Linked DNA regions of Homo sapiens: region 2 is linked to region 1. The links come from fine-mapping of genetic effects on gene expression. Tissue or cell type: caudate. Region 1 holds a variant in brackets; the other region holds the start of a gene. All regions are shown on one strand. Distances are between the middles of the regions.

Region 1 (2,682 bases):
ACAACCTACTGAATGTGGCCTCCAGATCTGCGGCTTTGGCTCACCTATCCTGTGATGATTTTCCTTGCTCAGGAAATAGGATGGGACTGCAGTCCCTGGGAGCCACAAGGCACCCAACCTGATGCCCCACCATGTTGCAGGCACTGCCAGGGGCATTGTGATTGCCACAGGAGACCGGACGGTGATGGGCCGCATAGCTACTCTCGCCTCAGGCCTGGAGGTTGGGCGGACACCCATAGCAATGGAGATTGAACACTTCATCCAGCTGATCACAGGGGTCGCTGTATTCCTGGGGGTCTCCTTCTTCGTGCTCTCCCTCATCCTGGGCTACAGCTGGCTGGAGGCAGTCATCTTCCTCATCGGCATCATAGTGGCCAACGTGCCTGAGGGGCTTCTGGCCACTGTCACTGTGAGTGGGTCAGGCTGAGGTGCCACCAGGGGAGGGTCTCACTACTCTTTCCTCAGAGTGATAGAGGCACAGTTGCTTGTAGCTTCTCACTACTTTTTCCCCCTAGAGTCACTTATTGGATGCGATACTCAGAGATCACTTAATACATGGCTTAGGGTATGAGTTGAGAAATCTCAGGTGGGGCTATTCTTAGGCACTCAGTTTCTCTTTTGGAGCTTGTCACGGCTGCCTTTTCTCACGATCTGCCAGCAGTCTGGGTCTCATTCCGTCCAAGTCTCCTGTAGAGGCTGTCTCAAAGGTCACCAGTCACTAACTAGCAAATCCAGGGACCTTTTCTCAGCTCTCCTCCCTAACTCTGCTGCTGAAACAGATACTGCTGTCCACCCTCCTACCATTCTCTCTTTTGTCGATTGCTGTGATGTGTCACTATCCTGGTTCGCCTCTCCTCTGTCCCTTCCTGCTCCCCCTACACTGATTCTCAGGCCTCAGCTGTCTGTTCTTCCTACACCCTGAGCAAGAGCCAATCTCCTCCCAGTTTGCAGTGTCCCTTCTGTGTTGATGACTCAGACATCCCTATGCTCAGCTCTGCTCTGGCCCTCTCTGGAGCTCTAGTCAAACGTCTTAAACCCCCTAATGGGCATTTCATCTTAACAGATACTCATGATCTCAACACATCTAAAATTGAACATTCATTATTTACAGCTAAGTCCCACCCATTCAAGTTAGTGGAGTAGAATCAGGGGAGGAGGAATGGAGCCACGGTCTAGGGTAAGGTTATGGCCATCTCCGGCTTCAGCCTTAACCTTTTTTATTCTCCTCTTTCTCTACCAGGTGTGCCTGACCCTGACAGCCAAGCGCATGGCACGGAAGAACTGCCTGGTGAAGAACCTGGAGGCGGTGGAGACGCTGGGCTCCACGTCCACCATCTGCTC[G/A]GACAAGACGGGCACCCTCACCCAGAACCGCATGACCGTCGCCCACATGTGGTTCGACAACCAAATCCATGAGGCTGACACCACCGAAGATCAGTCTGGTGATTGGGTGCTCCAGAGGGGGTGGATAGGATTAGAGGAGGCTGAGGGCAGTGGCGTGGTGGGGTGAGTGGTTGAGATAAAGGCTCTAAAGGGAGCCACGCTCCTGGTTCCCCCTCATTTCCTCCCAGGGGCCACTTTTGACAAACGATCCCCTACGTGGACGGCCCTGTCTCGAATTGCTGGTCTCTGCAACCGCGCCGTCTTCAAGGCAGGACAGGAGAACATCTCCGTGTCTAAGGTAGGGGGTCAGGACACACACCAGGTATGTTTTGGGGGTGTCTCCAAAGCCTCTTGCTGGCCCCAGCTTTCCTTCTCACATGATGTGGCTGCCTTGGGGGTTTCAGTGCCGCCTTCACCTGATCCTCCACTCCCTTCCCTCCCATGCTGACACTGAATTCTTGTCTCTTCTGGCAGCGGGACACAGCTGGTGATGCCTCTGAGTCAGCTCTGCTCAAGTGCATTGAGCTCTCCTGTGGCTCAGTGAGGAAAATGAGAGACAGAAACCCCAAGGTGGCAGAGATTCCTTTCAACTCTACCAACAAGTACCAGGTCTGCTTGGGTTGCCAGGACAGAGGAAGAGAGAGGGATATAAATGGGTGAGGGTGGACAAAGCCAAGGGGAATCATCACTAGCAGGAGTGGGGGTGTCTGAGGGTCATGTTCCCTCCCCCTGCTAAGTCCCCCAGGACAGCTCATATGACTGCATGTCTGATTGCAACTAGCCCCAGCTCCCAAACCTTACTCCATCCCTTACTACAATCTGTCACTCTCTCAACTCTTCTTCCCATAGCTCCGCATCCTCTGGCCTAGCCTTCCAACTCTTCTACCCCAGTCAGTGAAACCATAATTCTGTAATTCCTTTATGGTGCCCCTTAGCCTTTAGGCACCTGTTAAATGCCAAGAATGCAATCTCAGCATTCCTTATTATCCATAGAGGTAAAGCCCCCTGAGGCCAGGTGGTGGTGGGGATGCTGAGGAGGGAGCCGTTCAGCCCCTAGCACAGTGCCTGTCTTAACCTGACCTCAATAAATATTTGTTGAATGAAAGACTGTCCTACGGAGGTGGCTCTCAGGTTACAAGTGTTGGAACTGTGAGGTCTAAACACCCCCCTGCACAAGGAGATTCTCTTTGTTGACAATCTTTGATGGGTTGGGGCTACTTTTCTAAGGTGGTTTCCTTACCAGCTGCTGCTCTATGCCGCGCTACCAAGACAAGTATGGCCCTCTCTGTAACTACCTGTTGT
Region 2 (2,682 bases), 23 kb after region 1:
GAGACACCAGAGAAGGTCAATGGAAGAGGTAAGTACATCATTTTAAAATGAGAAAATGCAACGCTATCACATGGAAAAGCATATTTTTACCCTCACTGAGAAGAGCTGCATATTAATCCACAAATAAAACTACTACTGAATTCAAGCTACCTATTGAGCACATACTATATATGTCACATAGTGCTTTTTGTAGAGCACCTCACTTAAGGTAGAAGGTATCCTCTTTTAAAAATAAGAAAAGAGAGGTACAGAGGTTAGGTAACTTGCTCAAAGCCACACAGCTGACAAGTGGAGGAGTTGGGATTGAAATCCAGGACTGGTTCCAGAGCCCAAGATCTGATCTATTCTGCTAGCTGATCTCCTAAAATTAAAAGATCAAACCCAATGTTAGTGGAAAAGTGTGCCTTGCTAAAAAACACACACAGAGTACCTGCTTTTTTTTTTTTTTTGAGATGGAGTCTCAAAAACAGACGGGAGAATATTAGTCCAAACTGCAACTGCACCATTTTGTAAGCTCCCTGCTATGGTTTTTTGTTTGTTTGTTTGTTTGTTTGTTTGTTTGTTTGTTTGTCTGAGATGGAGTCACTCTGTCACCGAGGCTGGAGTGCAGTGATGCAATCTCAATTCACTGCAACCTCTGCCTTCTGGATTCAGATGTTTCTCCTGCCTCAGCCTCCCGAGCAGCTGGGATTACAGGTGCCCACCACCACACCTGGCTAAATTTTGTATTTTTAGTAGAGATGGGGTTTCACCATACTGGCCACGAAGGTCTCGATCTCAGCCTCCCAAAGTGCTGGGATTACAGGCATGAGCCACCGCGCCCGGCCGAATACCCGCTTTATTTTTGAGTCATCTATTTGGCATACCTCTAAGCCTCCAAAGTCTGCAGGACCACACAAGAACTTTGTTCTAGTTCTGCCCTCAGACTGAAACTCTTTCTGTAGCAGGGCCTGCTCCAATCGTCCTCAAACCCAAAGACTGAGACTTCTAGGTTCTTGGTTAAAACCTTCATGAGGCCTTTGCGACAGCAGACCTGGACCATCGCCAAGGCAAGACTTCTGGATTCTTGGTTAGAACTTTCAGGAGGCCTTTGTGATGCCAGACCTGGGTCATTGCCCCAGCAACCACAGGGCCTGGGACTGGGGGGTTCCCAGATCCTTGAAGCTCACTCCGCCTCCTCACTCTCACTGCATTTCCCACCTTCCTGTGGGCCTTGCGGCATCTTCATCACTGAGGCACCTGGTTACGCTTCACCTCTTGTTTCCTGCCCTCACTGCATTCCCTCACCTCTACCTTTTTATCCTTCCACCCTAGGCTTCTCTCCTCCCTCTTCCCTCACTCCTGACTCTTCCTCTTCCCAGCGGACGGCTGGAGGACCGCTCAGTCTCTCCTCTCTCACTTCCCTTCCTCTCTCTCACCTTCACCACCCAACACCTCCCTCCCTGCCTCTTTCTTTCTGCTCCCTCATTCTCTCCCCACCACTCTCTTCTCGTGGCCCCCTTGCCCGCGCGCCCTCTTCCCTTCCCCTTGCCTCACTCTCTCAGCTTTCTTCCCACAGTTGAGCTCGGGCAGCTCTTTCTGGGGATAGCTATGGGGCTTTGGGGGAAGAAAGGGACAGTGGCTCCCCATGACCAGAGTCCAAGACGAAGACCTAAAAAAGGGCTTATCAAGAAAAAAATGGTGAAGAGGGAAAAACAGAAGCGCAATATGGAGGAACTGAAGAAGGAAGTGGTCATGGTGAGGCCACCCAAAGTGGGCGCTGACAGCTGCCCTCTGAAAACACTCCTCCACCTATCTTTAACATCTTACCTTGAGAATGAAACACACAGGCCAGAGCCACATCTCTTCTCTGTTAGGCTTTGGAGGGAAGGAGAGGGTTAAAAAAAAAAAAAAAGATACACACAGAGAGACAGGGCAGCTCAACAGCAAGCACAGGTATATTGCAGACACCTGTGGAAGTGGGGGATCAGCTTAATTCCACAGTCCACTGCCACTTACAGGCTGGGTACTTATAGGGATGGATGGGAGGAGTCTGGGCTGTATGGCCTGCTGCCTGGCAGGATATCGATAAGATGTTCTCATGATGAGGTGATTTTTGGCCCTTGTTTCCACAGAATATAATCATGGTATTCCCTGGACCTTTGCCCAGCAGGATGTGATAGGGATGTTTCTTTAGTGGGGTCTTTGTCTTTAATTGGGCCTTCGTCTGCCCTGTGGTCAGGTGGTTAGGCAGGCTGTTTCTCTGGCCCGAACCCCCGTGAAATGTTTCACTTTGACCAAGGCCTGTAAAATAGTGGGGAGCTAGGCCGGGCGTGGTGGCTCACACCTGTAATCCCAGCACTTTGGGAGGCTGAGGCAGGCAGATCACCTGAGGTCAGGAGTTTGAGACAAGCCTGGCCAACATGGTGAAACCCCGCCTCTAAAAATACAAAAATTAGCTGGTCCTGGTGATGGGCCCCTGTAATCCCAGCTGCTTGGGAGGCTGAGGCAGGAGAAACACCTGTTGGGAGGCAGAGGTTGCAGTGAGTCGAAATCGCACCACTGTACACCAGCCTGGGCAACAGAGTGACTCCATCTCAAAAAAAGAATTGCAGGGAGCTTACAAAATGGAGCAGTCTCAGTTTGGACTAACATTCTCCAGTCTGTTTCTCCCCCTCTCCCTGGAAATGACCTGGGCCACCC

Evidence for each region. PIP is the estimated chance that this variant, and not a neighbour inherited with it, causes the effect.
Region 2: ATP1A4 starts here. The variant in region 1 is fine-mapped to the expression of ATP1A4 in caudate (GTEx, PIP above 0.99). The same link has a PIP of 0.9 or more in neural progenitor cells, prefrontal cortex and skeletal muscle.

What each region holds. Positions count from the first base shown.
Region 1 is chr1:160,127,412-160,130,093 of GRCh38, forward strand. It overlaps ATP1A2 (ATPase Na+/K+ transporting subunit alpha 2), which reads left to right. Exons shown (of 23, transcript NM_000702.4): 8 at 141-409; 9 at 1,241-1,439; 10 at 1,569-1,678; 11 at 1,855-1,989. Among named protein-coding and RNA genes, the nearest start is that of ATP1A2, 13 kb to the left of the region's middle. The variant G/A (reference allele first, on the strand shown) is at 1,342.
Region 2 is chr1:160,150,451-160,153,132 of GRCh38, forward strand. ATP1A4 (ATPase Na+/K+ transporting subunit alpha 4) reads left to right here and starts at 1,153. Exons shown (of 22, transcript NM_144699.4): 1 at 1,153-1,737. The coding sequence starts at 1,591.